Homo sapiens: one gene and its partners. The protein of the gene in region 2 purifies or fractionates together with the protein of the main gene of each other region. This does not show direct contact. Each region holds a gene or a part of one and is shown on either strand. Other genes may lie near its edges. The genes, in order: RAB31, ABCC2, NDUFA10 and TOMM70.

What was found.
Region 1: the proteins of ABCC2 (region 2) and RAB31 fractionate together in Homo sapiens (co-fractionation; one large-scale study listed by BioGRID). This does not show direct contact.
Region 3: the proteins of ABCC2 (region 2) and NDUFA10 fractionate together in Homo sapiens (co-fractionation; one large-scale study listed by BioGRID). This does not show direct contact.
Region 4: the proteins of ABCC2 (region 2) and TOMM70 fractionate together in Homo sapiens (co-fractionation; one large-scale study listed by BioGRID). This does not show direct contact.

The regions. Positions count from the first base shown.
Region 1 is NC_000018.10:9,714,088-9,719,015, reverse strand, and holds part of RAB31 (ras-related protein Rab-31), read right to left. Parts: intron 2,756-4,928; exon of another isoform or gene 2,660-2,755; intron 1-2,659. UniProt on the Homo sapiens protein: The small GTPases Rab are key regulators of intracellular membrane trafficking, from the formation of transport vesicles to their fusion with membranes.
Region 2 is NC_000010.11:99,784,999-99,789,926, reverse strand, and holds part of ABCC2 (ATP-binding cassette sub-family C member 2), read right to left. Parts: intron 1-4,928. UniProt on the Homo sapiens protein: ATP-dependent transporter of the ATP-binding cassette (ABC) family that binds and hydrolyzes ATP to enable active transport of various substrates including many drugs, toxicants and endogenous compound across cell membranes.
Region 3 is NC_000002.12:240,011,843-240,016,770, forward strand, and holds part of NDUFA10 (NADH dehydrogenase [ubiquinone] 1 alpha subcomplex subunit 10, mitochondrial isoform 1 precursor), read right to left. Parts: intron 3,019-4,928; coding exon 2,897-3,018; exon of another isoform or gene 1-2,896. UniProt on the Homo sapiens protein: Accessory subunit of the mitochondrial membrane respiratory chain NADH dehydrogenase (Complex I), that is believed not to be involved in catalysis. Complex I functions in the transfer of electrons from NADH to the respiratory chain.
Region 4 is NC_000003.12:100,372,942-100,377,869, forward strand, and holds part of TOMM70 (mitochondrial import receptor subunit TOM70), read right to left. Parts: coding exon 4,764-4,928; intron 2,212-4,763; coding exon 2,077-2,211; intron 705-2,076; coding exon 597-704; intron 1-596. UniProt on the Homo sapiens protein: Acts as a receptor of the preprotein translocase complex of the outer mitochondrial membrane (TOM complex). Recognizes and mediates the translocation of mitochondrial preproteins from the cytosol into the mitochondria in a chaperone dependent manner.

The DNA of each region.
Region 1 (4,928 bases), on a different chromosome or scaffold from region 2:
TTACAGGCGTGAGTCACCATGCCTGGCCTTCAAATTGTAATTAGCATGCATCACTTTATGTTATGGTCTGAATATTTGTGATCCCCAAAATTTGTATGTTGAAATCCTGACCTCCAAAGTGACAATACTAGGAGGTAGAGCCTTTGGAAGGTGATTAGGTCAGAAGGCTAGAGCTCTCATGAATGGGATTAGTGCCCTTATGGAAGAGGCCCCAGGGAGCTCCCTTACCCAATGGGAAGACTCAGTCTGCAACCCCTTAGAGAGCCCTCACCAGAACCTGCCCGTATTGGCACCCTGATGGTGGACTTTCAGCCTCCAGAACTGAAGGAAATACATTTCTGTTGTTTTTCAGCCCCCAGTCTATGGTGCTTTACTATAACAGCCCAAAAAGACTAAACTACTTGATAATTTAAAAAATTAGCTCTTTAGAAGTTTATTATGAAAGTTCAGAAAATAAGGCTGGTTGCAGTGGCTCATGCCTGTAATCCCAGCACTTTGGGAGGCCGAGGCAGGTGGGTCACCTGAGGTCAAGAGTTCAAGACCAGCCTGACCAACATAGTGAAACCCCATCTCTACTAAAAATACAAAATTAGCCAGGCATGGTGGCGCATGCCTGTAATCCCAGCTACTTGGGAGGCTGACGCAAGAGAACTGCTTGAACCCAGGAGGCAGAGGCTGCAGTGAGTCGAGATCACACCACTGCACTCCAGCCTTGGTAACAAAAGCAAAACTCCATCTCAAACAAACAAACAAAAAAATTCAGAAAATATTTTAGCTGCTAAAATGAAGTATAAATTAACTACGTAGTATTGATGCCATGAGATGAACTTTAAAAAACACTTTCTAATCCCAGCACTTTGGGAGGCTGAGGCAGGTGGATCACTTGAGCCCAGGAGTTCAAGACCAGCCTGGGCAACGTGGCAAGCCCCATCTCTACAAAAGAAACCAAAAAAATTATCCAAGTGTGGTGGTGGGCACCTATAGTCCCAGCTACTCGGGAGGCTGAGGTAGAAGCATTGCTTGAACCCGGGAGGTCAAGGCTGCAGTGAGCTGTGATTGCACCACTGCACTCCAGCCTGGGCAAGACCCGGTCTCAAAAAAAGTAAATAAAATAAATAAAAAGTAAATAAATAAAACTTTCTTAATTAACCTTGCCATAAATGTAAATGCCCTGGCCAATAATCTGATTATTTAAAAAACAAACAAACACACAAGAACACCTTGCTCTTTCTCCTTGCCAGCAGTGGGCAAATTTTATGTGATACTCCACATACTGTGTGTACGTGTGTCTGTGTGTGTACGTGCGTGTCTCTCTGTCTTTCTTCTTCTCTTCTCCTCTTTCTCTCTTCTTCTCTCCACTTTCTCCCTCTGTCCTTCCCTCCCAGAGCGACACATTATATTTGCAGATCCTAGTTAGGAAAGTGATTCCATGAAGGCAGAGAGTAGTCCTGGAGAATGCAGGTATCCTTTTCTTCAAAAAAAAATACATTGATAGAAAGGCATCTAGCTCTCTGTGACATCCTGTTCAAAGAAGAGAAAATAGAAGGGAAATGACCTCCCTGTGTTCTGTTTGCTGTCCTGCAGGCCCCTTCAATTTTCTGATAACTCGAGTCTCCTAGGCACCTCTGGGGGAACTGAAAGTAGCCTAAGATATCTTCTGGGTTAAATATGGTGCAAACAGAAGCCACATTCATGACTTCTAGAGAATTCAAGCAGGTCTGAGACATCTAAACCAAGGAAATGTATTCGAAAAAAACTCATCAAAAGATCCCACAGTGAAAAACCCATTTGGTGACCTGATGTTAAATCCGACTTTTCGGAAGCAGGAGGATCACTTGAGACTGGGAGGTTGAGGCTGCAGTGAGCTGTGATCGCACCATTGCACTCCAGCCTGGATGACAGAGTAAGACCCTGTCTCAAAAAACAAAAAAACAAAAAAGAAGCCCACTTTTTGGCTGGGCAAAGTGACTCACACCTGTAATCCCAATATTTTTGGGGAGGCTGAAGTGGGAGGATCGCTTGAGCCCATGAATTCAAGACTAGCCTGGACAACACAGCAAGACCCCATCTCTACCAAAAAAAAAAGAAAGAAAGAAAGAAAGAAAATTAGCCAAGTGTGGTGGCACGCCTGTAGTCCCAGCTACTCAGGAAGCTGAGGCAGGAGGATCACTTGAGCCCAGGAGTTCGAGGCTATAATGAGTTATGATCACACCACTGCATTCCAGCCTGGGTGACAGAGCAAGACTCCGTCTCAAATAAAAATTCCATTTTTCTTTTCCTCATTTCTGCTGACAAAGTTAGGTAACAAAAAAGACCACTCTGGCTCCTCAGGACATACTCTCCTCTCCACAGCTCAGCAGCTTACCACAGGAGGAAGCTGTAGGACCAGCGTCAATCCCCGGGTAAATAAGAGGCAGACGCCTCCATCCTGGGCTCTGAAGACACTGAGCACACTCAATTGTCACCCCCGCCAGCCCACTCCCACCTCTTGCCTTCTTTTCCCATAAAGCACATACCACCTCCTAACAGACCATATGATTTATTTTCCCTACCTTCCTGCTAAAATGTAGGCTCCAAGAGGTCAAAGTTCTGTGTCAGACACACCACTGCCTGACACTTGCAGAAGCTAAGAAATTTTTTTAAATAAATGCCACAGAGATAAGTGGGAAAGAGTATTTTAATATTATACATGATCACGTTAAAAAATAAGACCACTCGAGATCGCCTGCGTTGTATTCTCACCCAAACAATGAACCTGAAAGAAGTAATGAGGAAACAATCAGACACTTCCAGATCTTGGGACCGCCTACAAGACAACTGGCCTGGCTTCTTCAAAAATGCCAGAGTCATGGGGAAAAAAGAAGGGGAACTGTTTTAGATGCACAGTGACTAAAGAGACAGGACAACCAAATGAAATACATGATCTCTAACTGGACCCTTTAAATAGCTGGAAAGGACATTTGGGGGCAACTGGAAACATCTGAACATGGACCATATGTTTGATACCCTGTGTTCATGTTCAATTTAGGGGATGGGAGCATAGTATTGTGGTTACATAGGAGAATGCCCTTTTTCCTAAAAGACACATACTGAAGTATTTGTGGGTAAAGTGCCACCATGTCTGCAACTTACTTTTAAATGGTTCAAAAAAAAATGTTTAGTATTATTTATAAACAGAAAGACAGGCTGGGCACAGTGGCTCACGCCTGTAATCCCAACACTTTGGGAGGTCAAGGCAGGCAGATTGCTTGAGGCCAGGAGTTCGAGACCAGCCGGCCAACGTGGTGAAACGCCATCTCTACTAAAAAAAATACAAAAATTAGCTGGGCATGGTGTTGCACACTTGTGATTTCAGCTACTCAGGAGACTGAGGCAAGAGAATCGCTTGAACCCAGGAGGTGGAGGTTGCAGTGAGCCGAGATTGTGCCACTGCACCCCAGGCTGGTTGACAGAGCGAGACTCCATGTCAAAAAAAAAAAAAAAAAAAGAGAGAGAGAGAGACAAAGGACAAGTGACAAAATGTTACTCCTGCTGAATCTAGGGGACATTCATAGTCCTTTCAACTGCTGTGTAAGTTTTAAATTTTTCAAAAAAAAAAAAAGGGGGCAAAGGGAATTAAAAATAAAAGACCCAGTGCTAGAGAGACAGGGAGTAGGGGGTGTCAATGGAAGAGTGGGCAGGCTGGGAGGGGAGGGACTGTGCCAGAAAATACAGTGAGATCCAAGCCCCCTGCCAGGGCCTGGAGTGCACACCCACCTTTCCTTCCCTGTCCCTTTAGGCACTGTTCAAATCCTTCCTACTCCAAGAAACCTTCCCAACTCCCCACTTCACAGCCCCCGCTGTATTTGACTCCCACCATATCCCACTATACATGCAACACCTCCTGCCTCACACCCATCAGCAAGGGCCGTGTTCCTGTGCGTGTGGCACAGGAACCAACCAGAAGCCTCTCCATCCCAGGCAGGGACCAGATCCCTGCCTGACCTACTTTCTGTCTCTAGCAGAGTTAGCACAGCACTGTGCGACAGCAGGTACCCAAGACAGACCTGGAGCAAGAACTTTCTGTCCCTCCCATGCCGTCAAGTCTACTAAGCGGGATGACAGTCAGTATTTCTCATCATCACAACACACTACTTCTGTTCCGCATGGTGGGCCATGGTAAGCACCATAATAAGAATCCAGTCAATGCCACAGAGCTCACTGCTGGTGTGTTCGTGTCTTTGGGAAGGCAACAATCACTGCCATCCTGTCTACATGCAGCCACCCACAGCTCCCAGCATAAAAGAAACACTCCACAAATGGTGAATGGCTGAATGAATGAATACCTATTCCATTTTCAAACACATGTCATAAGTGATAAAAACTAAGATAAATGAAAGTGTAAAATCTGCACAGGCATGCAAACACCAAATAAGCGTTATCTACCAGGCTTAATTAAATTTTAAAGGTCTTTTCCAATTAGTGAACTCAAAAGCTTTTGCGTTCTAGCACAGAGGTCCCCAACCCCTGGGGCGGTACTGACCCATGGCTTGTTAGGAACCAGGTTGCACAGCAGGAGGTGAACAGTGAGTGAGCATTACCAGCTGAGCTCTGCCTCCTGTCAAATCAATGGTGACATTAGATTCTCACAGGAGTGCAAACCCTGTTGTGAACTGCGCATGTGAGGGATCTAAGTTGCATGCTCCTCATGAGAATCTAACTAATGCCTGATGATCTGACGTGGAACAGTTTCATCCTAAAACCATCCCCCGCCTCCTGCTCCCATCTGTGGAAAAATCGTCTTCCACAAAACTGATCCCTAGTGCCAAAAAGGTTGGGGACCACTGTCCTAGCATCTTAAAATGTAAAGTTTCCTATTTTCTCATGGCTGTGGCCTTAGAGCAGACCTAAAGGATATATCACACTCACTAAAACAGTGTCATTGGGCC
Region 2 (4,928 bases):
TGAGCTGGTTGTCTCCCAGTAATGTGGAGGGGACTGACTTCATCCTGGCTTTTTGATACTTTTACATTTGGAGAAATTTTACATATTTCTCTAAGATATTCTACCTAGATACTTAAATCTTAAAGCCTTAGCCATTTTTACAGTCCAGCTCTTTAATTTTCCTCCACCTTTCCTTTTCTTTCTTTTTCTTTTCCTTTTTCTTTTTTTTTTTTTTTTTGAGACGGAGTTTCGCTCTGTCACCCAGGCTGGAGTGTAGTGGTGCTATCTCACTGCAACCTCCGCCTCCCAGGTTCAAGTGATTCTCCTGCCTCAGCCTCCCAAGGAGATGGGATTACAGGTGTGAACCATTATGCCCGGCTAATTTTTGTATTTTTAGTAGAGATGGGGTTTCACCATGTTGCCCAGACTGATCTTGAACTTCTGACCTCAGGTGATCCACCCACCTCAGCCTCCCAAAGTGCTGGGATTACAGACGTGAGCCACTGCACCCGCCCCTCCCCGCTCCTTTTCAATAACATGAGTGTGAGTCCAGCTTGTCTCCAAAGCCTGCCTTATTCTAAAGCATCCAATTCTAGGGACTCTTTCACCAATGCCTGTGACTCGTGGCCCTGATGAAAGTTATCCATCCTTGCAAATGACATATGAGGAGGTGTCCCACTCAGAGGCTCTCTCATCTTCCTTCCTCCGTGGATCTATTTATTCAGGAAAGCTCTAATTCTTCCACTAGTCCCAGAGTAAAACTACACATTTCTGCAGAGAAGAGCACAGTGAAGAATGAAGATAAGATCCAGGAGAAGAAACAGAAGACCAGAATCATGTTCTCTCCGGCCCAGCTGTGTGTAATTAATGATGGATTTCAGAGACAGAAACACCGCAGCCTCCAGCAGCTGCAAGAACTTTCCAATACCCTGAATCTTAGCTACAAACAGCATACAAGCTAGTTACAGAGAATGAAAGCTAAGAGGTGGTAGAAAGCCAACTGACCAAAGAATAAGCAACAATATGACTCAGGGCTCAGCATCTACAGAATACCCAGGCCTCTACTCTTCCTACCACCAGGAATGCCTGGGGAACACATCTGGAAACCTTCCAGTGTGGATCAACCATTCCCAGAAAAGTCAGACTTGGCACCCAGAAGACTAGAACAACCAGTCCCGGAAAAATCGGTTTCATAACTGTGGGGAGGAATCTTGGTAGTCCTGCATGCAGCTCCAGCGAAATTCTCCTGCCAGTTTTTGGAAGCTGTCTTGGAAACTGCTGGGGAAAGCTATGATGTAATACAGCAAACCACTAAGTATTTCAGTGCTTCACAAATCATAGGTTTATTCCTAAATTACTCCATGAACATGCAGCCTGAAAACGTGTGGAGATGAATATATTAACTCGATTTTAGTCTGGGTAGTGGCGGAATTCTTCCTTTTTCCCTCCCTCCCTCATAGGATTTTTCTTGTTTTACAGCTCTGTATTCTGCCTTGATATACTGGTTTTCATTGTACCTATTGGGTCTATTTGGGGGTGGGATATGACTGAAGTCTAATCAAAGAGGTTTCAGTAACCTTGGCTGCATGGTGGTATCAGTACGAGTTTGGCTGCTTAGGTACAAATGAATAAAATATCCACAAAAAGAGAGAAAAATGCAGATTTTTATGTGCTAAAATGGAAGGAGCTCTAAGACACAGAAAAGCACATATGGGACGCTAGCATTTGTGTGAAAAAATATATGTACGTAGCTGTTTGTAAAAGCACAGGCTATTTCTGGAAGGAGATATGAGGAACTGGTATCAATGGTTGCCAACTAAGACATGAATGAGTGACTAGAGTACTGGGTACCCTTTTGTCCTTTTTTTTCTTTTTTTTTTTGAGACAGGGTCTACCTCTGTCGCCCAGGCTGAAGTGCAGTGGTGTGAACATGGCTCACTGCAGCCTTGACCTCCTTGAACTTGTCAAGTGATCTTCCCACCTCAGCCTCCCGAGTAGCTGGGACCACAGGCACATGCCACCATGCCTGGTGAATTTTTTTAATTTTTTGTAGAGATCGGTCTCACCAAGTTGGCCAGGCTGGTCTCGAAATGCTGGGCTCAAGCAATTCTCCCACTTCAGCTTCCCAAAGTGTTGGGATTACAGGCATGAGCTACTATGCCCAGCTCCTTTTGTACTTTTTGAACTTTGTGATCCTCTGAGAATTATCCGTTCAAAAGATAAGTTAAATACACTCACACCCCCATTAAAAAATAAGGAAGTGATATGAACAGACAATTCGCAAATGAAATACACTTAACAAATTAAAAAAACAATTGCGTTAGTATTCATAAAAATGCAAAGCAACTCAGTGAGATGTCATGTTTACACATAAAAGTTGAAAATAACTCAATGCTGACAATGGTGCAAGGACATGCACTTTAACACACTGTTGGCAGGAATCTATGCTGGCAGCCTGCCTGGGCGACAGAACGAGACTCCGTCCCCCCAAAAAAAGGGGTAAAATATCAATACATGGTATAGCAATGGTACAGCATAGATAAACCTTGAACACATTGTGCTAAGTGAAAGAAGCCAATCAAAAAAGAACCATATTATATAATTCCATTCATATGAAATGTCTAGAACAGGGAAATCTATAAAGACAGAAAAGAGATTTAGCGGTTGCTAAGGATAAGGGGAAGGAGGAGACGGGGTTAAAGATAATGAAATGTTCTAAAATTGACTGTGGTGATGGTTGCACATATGTGTTAATATACTGAAAAAAACTGAATTGCATTTTTTTTTTTTTTGAGACAGAGTCTGAAGCTGGAGTGCAGTGGCACGATCTTGGCTCACTGTAACCTCCACCTCCCGGGTTCAAGTGATCCTTATGCCTCAGCCACCTGAGTAGCTGGGGTTACAGGTGTGTGCCACTGCACCAGGCTAATTTTTTTTTTTTTTTTTGAGACGGAGTCTTGCTCTGTCACCCAGGCTGGAGTGCAGTGGCATGATCTCAGCTCACTGCAACCTCCACCTCCCAGGTTCAAGCAATTCTCTGCCTCAGTCTCCTGAGTAGCTGGGATTACAGGCGTCCGCCACCATGCCTGGCTAATTTTTGTATTTTTAGTAGAGACGGGGTTTCACCATGTTGGCCAGGCTCGTCTCGAACTCCTGACCTCGTGATCCACCCACCTCGGCCTCCCAAAGTGCTGGGATTACAAGCGTGAGCCACCATGCCCAGCCGAATGTTTTTGTATTTTTAGTAGAGATGGGGTTTCACTGTGTTGGCCAAGCTGGTCTCAAACTCTTGACCTCAAGTGATCCACCCACCTCGGCCTCCCAAAGTGTTGGGATTACAGGCGTGAGCCACAGCATCCGGCCTGAATTGTATTAAATGAGAGAACTGTATGGTATGTACATTATATCTCAATAAAGTATTTTGTAAAAGAGTTAACTAATAGCTTTTATTAGGATGGGATATTGGTTTGCTCATTAACCAGCTTCTTCTTGGAAGCTCCAGAAAGTAGAAGAAGCCTCCCAACTTGATTGCTTCTAACCTCGAACAATGACTCAATTCCAAGGGTACTGAGAATGTTATTAAATGTTCAGAGTTGTTTAATGTTCAGAATGTTCAAAGTCTAACATATGTTTCTTTCCTTTTTATTTTTATTTTATTTTATTTTTTTAAGAGATGGGGACTCACTATGTTGCCAGGCTGGCCTCTAGTGATCCTACCACTTCTAGCTTCCAGAGGAACTGGGATTACAGGTATGTACCACTGAGGTCAGCTCTAACCTACTCTTGAATCAACCACTATTCCCAGAATGCATTTAACACCAACATTCAACAAATGTTGTATTCCAGTGGGAGTGTTTGAAACATGCTAGGTCCTGTGATGGGCACTCAGGTCAACAAGGGAGACAGTGACACTGTCCCAAGCTCTGAGACTGTTCTTTTTTGAATCAGAATCTAATAAAACCCACGATCAACCCCAACCTCAAAGTGTCAAGGTGAAATCCACTTCCTTTGGCCAAGCTCTTTCCTCCTTTAAGATTCCAGGTAACCTGAGTCATTGTTAGGTATGCTAGTAGAACAATGGAATCTAGTTTGCCTTTCTAAAAACCTGTTGAAAGATAAGGACTGACAGAGGCTGTGCAGGTGGCTCAGGCTTGTAATCGCAGCACTTTGGGAGGCCAAGGCAGGAGGGATCACTTGAGGTCAGGAGTTCGAGACCAGTCTGGCCAACATGGCGAAATCCCGCCCTACTAAAAATACAAAAATTAGCTGGACATGGTGGCGTGCTCCTGTAATCCCAGCTACTCGGGAGGGGTTGAGGCATAAGAATTGCTTGAACCCAGGAGGTGGAGGTTGCAGTGAGCCGAGATAGTGCCACTGCACTCCAGCCTGGGCAACAGAGTGAGACTCCATTTAAAATGGTAGTAATAATGATAATAAGGAGAGATAGAAAAAAAAATAGTGAAAAGAAGCAGATGGAAGATTTTATGAGATAATTTTACAACCTCGAATGAGGGTCTTGGGTTCCCACAAGACCCTTCCCTGAGTGAGTTGGTGCAGCTGGCTGAGGGCTCCTCCCCTCCTGGCCCCTCCTGGGCCTCTCCCGCAGACCTGTCCTTTCCATTATTTCCCTACTCGTGCTTGTCACTGTGCACACTTACCCCTCCTCCTTCTACTGTGAGTGATCATCCTGACTCATCAAATATGCGGGGAAAATGGAAACCTTATTTCGGACCCAAGTTTTTGAAGATGAGTGATAGTTGGATTGCCTCAGTGGGGCAGGAGATCCATTATCTAGCTCATTTTCACGAGGTAGATGCCAACTGAATTACAGTCCACTGATTTATTAGAGCTGTTTAAAGACAGGTGATCCAGTGTTCATTTCTCAAATGCTATAAAGATAATTTGATTGATTATATGCCCTTTGTGTTTAGGGAACCCAATATCCACAA
Region 3 (4,928 bases), on a different chromosome or scaffold from region 2:
AGGGTCCCAACATCAGCTAGAGTCATTCTCCTTCTACTACAGTGAACACCTGAGCCTGCCCAAGTGCTCCCATAGCGTGACTTTCTCCACACATTCTAAGATGTATACTTAGGGCAAGAAAGATGCCTGTTACGAAGCAGCACTGCCTGTCTTTCCTGTCTGCCTCGTGCCTGAGTGCAGGAATGAAAGAGCACCAAAAATTGGGGGCAGCGGCCTGTCTGTCCGCCATCTGTCCTCAGCACACTCTCTTCTTGTCACCTGACTCTCCCTGCATCTCTCCAACTTGCTCGCCACCTCCATCGCTCACCCATCTCCCCGCAACCACTTCTCCCACTTTCTACGGCTGTCACCTCTCTCATCATCTGAAATGCACTATGCGAATTTCAGAAACTTGAATATCTAATTATGAGTAGCAAGTTTTAAAATTTAAAACTCCTTACAGTCTCACACTATCTTCTCAGCCCGTTTTGTTTTCTTCACATCATTTACCTCTATTTGATGTATTTATTTATCTCCTTGCTTGCTGTAGGTCTCCCCCATCAGCATATGAGCTCACGGGTGAGGACCTCATCCACCCTGCTCACTGGTATGTCCCTAGCACCAAGCAGGGTCTAGGACAGGGTGGATGCTCAATCAACACTTACAGGAGAGAGAGGAAGGAAGAAAGAAATGAATAGGCCTGCGGTTTCAACCTACAAAATGATGAAAACATTCTAAAACTGGATTATGGCAAGAGTGGCAACAACTTGGTAAATTTACCCAAAATCATTCAGTCGTACCCTTAAAATGGGTGAATTTTATGGAGCATAAATTATACCTCATTAAAGCTGTTCAAAATAAGAAAAACCCTATCATTCAAAGAATATTTACTGAACATGTATTAATTCCAGTAATGCGACGGGGCACAGGGAAAGGATGATACAGGCAATGCTGCACTTCATTGCTCTGTCAAAAGGGGGAAAGGCAGTAATTGGGAGTTCTATTTTCCAATAAGGACTTGGTGTCTGGGCAGAGACCATCTTTGTTCATCTTTGCAGCCTCCTAGGTGCCTGGCACAGGCGCCTTGCATATAGGAGGTGCTCTGTATTAGAGGAGTGAGTGAAATCAACAAAAGTATAAAAGAGGTGATATGATTCTAAATCTCTATCATTAGCTATGTGCCAAGTAGAATAAGATTAAATGTTAACTGATTATAAAAGAAACTCTAGTGTAATATAAGCCCATAACATGCAACATAACACAACCATCTCAGAAATCTGACCTGAAGTTACTTGATAAAATATGTAGTTATTGATCACTTTGACTGTTTTCTTAGAATCTAGAAATGGTTTTCGGATATTCCTATCAGTTATTCCCAAAAGGTGCAATACTGAGACACAGACTGCATTGAAATAAAAATCAAAATAAGAACACAGACTTACTGATAATGTGATGTCTTTTATAAAATGGGGTAATTTTACCTGATGACAGTATTGAAGACTTTACTTGGAAAAATTAAGAAGTTGACAGCTCTACTTTAGACCTCAGAATTATTTTTGAAATACTGTTTTCCCAGATAACAAAAGAATTATCTAGAGAATGTTAAATGTATGACTTTGTTTTTCTCAATAAATGTCAGCATAATAAGCAAAGGTGTCCAGTTAGTCCACTGAGAAACAAACATTTTGAACTTGCAGTTCCCTCCTTTTGCCACTTGATGGAAGGTTCTTAGAAGTCTAGCTATACAACATACTTACAAGCATATGCTTAAACAATAAAAGTTCCAGAGTGGCAATAGAAAGGCATACATAGACATCTCGCTGTTTCTACTATTGCAACAGAGAAGGAAAGTTAGTCCCATGGATCTTTCAGGAGCAGCAAAAAATAACCAGAGCTTTACTGTTGCCCTGACAAGAACCCACCATCCAGAGAGGTATTTCCTGAGCACCTACAAGAATTCCGGCACTGAGGATGGGCATCAGAGTGAGGAACAGGCAGGTAGCCCTGCATTTTCATCACAGTATCAAAAAGGAGACCATATTCTCCTCCAGGAAAAAATAACATAGTATTAAACAAGCAGTGAAACCCCGTCTCTACTAAAAATACAAAAAAATTAGCCGGGCATGGTGGCGTGCGCCTGTAGTCCCAGCTACTTGGGAGGCTGAGGCAGGAGAATGGCGTGAACCCGGGAGGCGGAGCTTGCAGTGAGCCGAGATCGTGCCACTGCACTCCAGCCTGGGTGACAGAGCGAGACTCTGTCTCAAAAAAAAAAAACAAAGAACTCGCCACAGGGCAAAGACGGTCTTTGTTTCATCTCAGGATCCTCCATCAAGCCGCCAACAGAGCTACCAACGGCCACAGGGTCACTTCAAAAGGCGTTGCTTCGAGGCCACCTAATTAAGATCCAATGAAAACTACAAAGAGTAAATGGATGTGTGTGGATATCACTGCTCTACTGTTCTAGAATTGGTAAGTAAGAAAAAGGGGGAGAGGCACGATTTGCGTTAAATAGATTGAAGTGATGAGGGATATTAGAAATTGCTTCCAATGTGGAAGAAAACGATAGGACACAAAAACCTCATCAGAGAACAGAAAGGTACGTGACAGAGGGATGGAGGACGCTCTGCCAGGAGGCCCTCACCAGCCTCCCAAGTTTAAACAGCTGAGGGGACTCGGGGACCACAGTGGGACCGCAGAGCACTGGTGGGCGGCAGGCCCGCAGGCTGTGGCACCAGGCCGAGCCATGGGGTCTCCCCTCCACCCCTGCAGATGCCCTCTCTCAAGTGGGAACAGGGTGTGTGTCACCCTCCTCGTGAGGACTGGTAGGAATTAGTATAAATGCTATTAAAACAGGGCTTTTAGTGCTGATCTACATTCAAAATAGAGATGCTTGGCCTTTGATTGAAAACTGCATTACATCTCCTTTCTTCTGAATCCGCCTCTGGACCTCTGGAACGGGCACATCGATGTAAATCACCAGGTGGGGGGGCAGGTAATCGCAGATGGTGACGCTCTTCACCTCGTTGTAGTGGTCCACACCTGGCACATAGGAGAAAGGGGCGCTGTCACCTACCAGTCCCCACACGGGTTTCCAAAACACACTCCTCCTTGAATAAAAGGGCAAACATACACGCAATTCTCAAAGCCACGTACCAATCTACAAACCCTATCTCGGTCACAGTTCTAAGCACTGACCACACACATGGCATGTGACTGTGCTCCAGGTGCCACGGGGCATGTGCAGACAGCAGCTGTGGTGCCCACAACCCTGAAAACAGGGCTTGTCGCCTCCACTGTATTTACAAACCAAAGGTCTGAGGCCCAGAGAAATTAAGCTACTTACACAGAGTAAAACAGCAGCATTTAAACTGTGACCTTAATCATCCTAAAAGACAGATCTTTAGCACATCTTAGCCACATTTAAGGGTTCACTTTTGCTCCTGAGGCAAGACGTAGGTCACGCAAGATGGAGGTCACAGTTCAGTGATCTTTGAACTGAAATATATTCCATATACTTGCAGTATATATGTTGCAGGTATATAGTATACATGCTACTATATTTCTTCACAGTAATAATAGATACAAGAGTCTGGTCTTCTCTGAAGAATAAAGAACAGCTTTAAATACTTTATTTTTCAAATAACTCAGCTGAAAATCATCAAGCTGCATTTATCCCGTTTCAGTAGTATAATCAGCTGCACAGAAGTATCTACTGAGTCAGATTTAGTGACAACATGAAATTGAAAGCAGCTAAGGCTGAGGAATAATTCTCCTAAAGTGATCACTACACAGAATGCATAATCCAGGGGGCACCCGCAGGGCCCGTGCCACCCAAGGGAACCCTGCCGCTCTTCAGAGCACTCTGCACCTGCACATGCTCATGCACACCCGACCTCCCAGAAGCCAACAGAGAGTGCACGCCAGTGCATGTGGAGAGGCCATGCTGAGAAGCCATCCCCTCTGCAGCTTTTCACGTGTGGAACCTTCCAGAAGTGACAGATGGCCATGCTAGGGTCCACAGAAAGACAACTATTTTGCTTTAAAGGAAATGGGCTGGGCACAGTGGCTCACGCCTGTCATCCTGGCACTTTGGGAGGCCGAGGTGGGCGCAGATCACTGGAGCCCAGGAGTTCAGGACCAGCCTGAGCAGCATGGTGAAATCCCATGTCTACCAAAAATACAAACATTAGCCAGTCTCCTAACCTAGTCTCAAAATAAATAAATAAAAATTTTAAAAATTAAATTAAAAAAAAAAGTTCCAGTGAGCATTCCTAGTAACCTCACTCTAGAGGCAACTGTGGGATGAGCCTTTGGCTCAGGGTCAGGAACGGCACGAGCTAAAGAACAAGGAAGACCACCCAGGAGGAGGTGTGACAAAGCAAAGGACGGAGGCTGCCAGTGGAGTACCGTTCACCTGAGCATACAAACACAAACCCGCAGCCAGGCAGAGCACACGGGACCTCGGGTCTGCTTCCTGACTGCTGGACCGGTAGCAGGCCGGTCTCTCCTGCTGCTGAGGTGAAACCTCCCTTCACCGAGTCTGCTCTCACCCTGCTTCCCACCCTCACCCTTACTCCTGTCAGTACACCCACTTCTCAGGTGGTCCCCACCTTGCTCTATGCCACCTGTCCTTTAGCCAACATGATCTGCTTTCCCCCAGCCCAGCACTCAAACGACTCTGGCTAACATCACCAGCCCCCGAAAGGTGAAACGTGACAGTCACTTCTCAGTTCCCATCAGAGTCACAGCACATGTGACACCAACAACCAACCCTCCCCACATCCCCTCTGCTTCCTCCTGTGCACCTCTGATCATTCAGCTTCAATCCCTCAGTGGGGGTCTCATCACCCCAGAAATGGTCCCCAAAGGATCTGGTCTCAGCCCTCCCCCATCACCCCTTGGGCTTTCCCAAGGAAAGCATGCTCACGGTCAGTGCTGGACCCCCAACG
Region 4 (4,928 bases), on a different chromosome or scaffold from region 2:
CAATACTGTAGAAGAGGGCATACTAATTTGTAAGAAGTGAACTTTGCAATAAATGAATTTTAAATCTAGTAAAATTTTTGTCATTTTCATTTATAATATATATTTGTGACATAATTTCTTCCTTTAAACTGAAAATTCTTTTACGACTCCAGCCATACAGCTAACTGGAAGTATCTTATTTTACTAGAAAAATTTTTACTTAAAAAAAAAAAAAAAACAACCTTTTGAGCTTTGTGTTTCTGAATATTAAGAAACAGTTCTATGAAGCAGGGGTGAGAGAGCAAGTTACATGGTGTCATGTTTACAGAGTGTTTCCTCAAAATGTTTTTGCTCTTTATATTGATTTATGATGAAGCAGGGAGACCAGTTCTGTTTAGGGAAGTATAAAATCAGGGACAAACATCTATCAAGATGAACCCAAACAAATGTCCAGAGAAATACAAGAGCTAGGTATCAATCAGCACCTTTTTTCCTCAGTAGTTATCCTTTGGGAAAGAAAGAAAAAGACGACTTTGTAGACAATGAGATACTCATTTTTGTTGACGCTGGAAAATAAAAGTGATGTTTAGGAAAATACAAAAGAAAGTAGTACCTACCAATGCAAAACATTTCTGTGCTTGTGCCAGAGCAGACTCAGGTCTTAACCTAATACATTCATCAAAATCTGCCACTGCTTCTTCAACTTGATCAAGGAGTATTTTCAGCTAAGAAAAAAATACGTAAATAAATGTAATTCAACTAGTCCAGTTAAGTATGTTCAGTGTCTCATCTCTATTATTACACCTCAGCATAATGCTGAGCATGTAGTAGTAATTCAATATATAATTACTTTCTAGAAACAGTGATTTAAAAATCTTGAAATTTAAAAGGCAAGATTCCAAAACATAAAAATGGTATCCAACTTATAGAAAGGACTACAAGCCAACCATTTCTGCCCTGCAATTCTGATCACTATTAAGCAAGAAACCCCTTCTTCTAGAAAACTAAACATCCTGTACATTCTAATATCAAAGCAGGTTAGACATCAGATAATTACCTTTCAAATTAATCTTCAGACACTACCAGTAAAGATCAAAATGTCAAGAATTTTAAGAGGTTATCTCAACACTTAACACCCTTCTGAAAGAAATACAGTCATGCATATTTACATTTCAATCAACAGACCACATATACAACAGTGGTCCCAAAAGATTGTAATACTGCATTTTTACTGTACCTTTTCTATGTTTAGATATGTTTTAGACACACAGATACTTACCATTGTGTTATAACTGCCTATAATATTTGGTATAGTAACATGCTATACACGTTTGTAGCTTAGGAGCAACAGGCTACAACATACAGCTTAGGTGTGTAGTAGGCTATACCATCTAGGTCTGTAGAAGTACACTCTATGATGTCCACACAACAAAATCGCCTAATAATGCACTTCCCTGGCAGGACACATGACCCTATTAGGTAAAATTCTCCATTAGAAAGAACTTCGGCTCTTCTGTTATTATTAATGCATAGCTCACACTTTATACCATAATGCATTCCAAGAAGCCATGTTAAGCTGATTATAAAGCCATGTTTTCCCCACTTGAGGCAGTAATTGGAAACTGTTTCTTCACTATATATTTCTACTAAAAAACTAATATGCCTGTTATAAAACTTCAAAAGATAAATATATTTATTTTTACTATTTGGACAGTCCAGACTATTTCCTTATAGCAAGAAGCTCACAAAAATCATCCTGTTGATTCTAGAATTAACTCACATTGCTTACTAAATGTTATTAATGTTTTACTCATTGAAACCTATGAACCAGAAACACCAGAAAAACAAACTTGAACTGGTAAGCCAACAGTTTTTGCCTTCCTTTACTCTTTTTTCATAAGTAAATACCAAAATTAAAGACAAATATTCAAGACAGACTAAACAAAGGCCAATTCAAACTGTAAACCACTGTGATACTTTGTTCACAGCTATCAGAAATTATATAAGAAAACTCAAGAAAATTACATAAGAAATTCTCAAAAATGGTATCAAAGCTCAATCCACAAGTCAGACCTCTAGGTAAGAAAACAGACTTACCTGTCCTCGGTGGTGATAAACATCTGCATTCTGAGGATCGATGTCAGCAGCCATGTTAAAATCTTGAGTGGACAGCAAAGGCTGCTGCTGTTGCATGTACATGCTGCCTCTTTTGATGAGAGCATTTGCTCGAAGCTATATACCCCAAGTGAGGAAAGGTTCATCATTACTTTTTTTTCCCTCCAATCTAGTTTCTTTAAATAACAGCTTTTTTCTATAATCCACATATCACAAAGGTCACCCTTTTAAAGTATGCATGTCACCTGTTTTTAGTGTATTCACTAAGTTGTGTGTTGATTACCACTATCTAATTCCAGAACATTTTCATCACCCTTAAAAGAAACCACATACAAATAAGCAGTCACTCTCCATCCCCCTCACCTCCTACTCTTCAGCCCCTAGAAAACACCAACCTATTTTCTATTTCTATGGATTTGTATATTCTGGATGTTTCATGTAAGTGGAATCATACATTATATATAGCCTTTTGTGTCTGGCTTCTTTGATTTAGCATAATGTTTTCAAGGTTCATCCATATTGTAGCATGTATCAGTTTTTCATTCTTTTGTTATGCCTGAAAAATATTCCATTGTACAGATATCACATTTTATTTATCCATTCATCAACTGATGGACATTTGAGCTGCTTCCACTTTTTGGCTACCATAAATAATGCTGCTATGAACATTCACATACAAGGTTTTTAAAAAAGCTTTTTAAAAATAGAGATGAGATTTTGCTACGTTACCCAGGGTAGTCTAGAACTCCTGGGTTTCCAAAGTGCTGGGATTACAGGTGTGAGCCTCCACACCCAGCTCTCATGTACAAGTTTTTGTGTTAACGAACGTATTAAATTCTCTTGGGTATATACCTAGGAGTGGAATTACTAGATCATATGGTAAGTTTCTGAGGAATTGCCAAACTAATTTCCAAAAGGGCTTCACCATTGTATTAATATATTTCCACCAGCAATGTATGAGGGTTCCAATTTTCCACATCTTCAAAAACACTTATTATTGTCCAATGTTTTTTATTAGAGCCTTATTGTCTTTTTGATTATAGCCATCCTAGTAGGTGTGAAGTGGCATCTCATGGTGGTTTTGGTTTGCATTTCCCTAATGGCTAATGATGCCAACAATCTTGTCATTTATTATTGGTCATTTGTATATTCTTTGGAGAAATGTGTATTCAGATCCTTTGCCCATTTTTAACTTAGGTTGTCTTTTTATTGTTGAGCTCTAAGAGTTCTTTATTCTGGATACAAGCTCCTAATCAGATATATGATTTGTGAATATTTTTCCCATGTTGTGTGATGTGTTTTCTCCTTCTTGATGGTGTCTTTTCACACAGAAGTTTTTTTTTTTTTTTGAGACAGGATCTCTGTCACCCAGGCTGGAGTACAGTGGCACAAGTCACGGCTCACCGCAGACTTGACCTCCCAGGTACAGGTGATCCTCCCATCTCAGCCTCCTGAGTAGCTATGACTACATGCACATGCCATCATGCCCGGCTAATTTTCAGGCATGAGCCACCACCCCAGCCAAGCACAGAAGTCTGATCACGTCCAATCTATTTTTTTTTTTTGGTTGCTTGTGCTTTTGGTGCCATATCTAAGAAACTGCTGCTTATCTAAGGTAACAAACATTTAGTCCTCTATTTTATCCTAACAGTTTTATAGTTTTAGCTCTTACATTTAGGGCTCTAATCCATTTTGAGTTAATTTTTGTGCATGGCATATGGTAGGCATCATTACTACTTGCCACTAAAAGTCATGTGATCATGAAAACAATGCGTTTCTTTAAAATTTTGTTCAAAGCAATACTACATACATATAGAACAAATAATAACATCCTCCACAATTATAACAAAAACATATAACATATATCAGTTGTAATCATCAGGAAAATCAGCAGAAAATAATATTAAAGATAATATTATGAGGGTATCTTCAATTTGAAAATCTCATTTTGAAAGAAACTTTTAACAATATTTAGGTCTTAAAACAACTTTTATATCCCCCCCAAATATAGGAGAGGAGAGAGGCTACAGAGTTCATTTAATGCAATGAGGAAACAGGTCACAGAGATGTTAACAAACTAATAAGTAATATAGTTAATTGGTGGTTAAATTGTTTTGTTACACTGAATAGAATGTAACAATTCAACAGATGCCCCTGAATCTTAATTATGAAATGTGTAATACATAGCACATTAAGAATACTTAGAAAATGAAAGGCTGTTCCAACTGTACAACTGCAAGACTTTTGGCATATTTATACATTCTATTTTTAGAACCTTTCTGAATATATTAATGTGTTTTTATTAAGTGTTTTATAACCTGGTGCTACATATTACACGTTACTGACAGCATTATCTACAGAATTGCATATCACCTTTACCACTGCCCAAATACAGTCCAATATGGTAGGCAGTGGCTACAGGGAGACGATGAAACTACCGGATGCTATAGGAAAAAAAAATTTCCTTTCCTAAATAAAGATAAATATCATTGATATTTATGTTTTCAGATTCACTGCACCAACTACATTATTATTAAGAGTAGTTTCTTCAAAAACAAAAACAGCCCTTTGAAGAATGGCAGTTGAAATGCTTTAAAAAATCTGGCAAAACATAATGAAAGGCATCGCCTTCTATTTAATAATTTCTTCACACACATTTTTTAATGTACCTTCACATTAGCTTCTTTCAAACTGATGACTTTATCTAAATCTGGTTTGGCTGCATTGGCATTGCCAATAAGCAGGTAGAAGGTAGCTCGTAGTAGCAATGCTTCTGCCATGTATTTGCCTTCAGCATCTATTTCTTTTGAGCATTCACTTATGATTTTATCGTA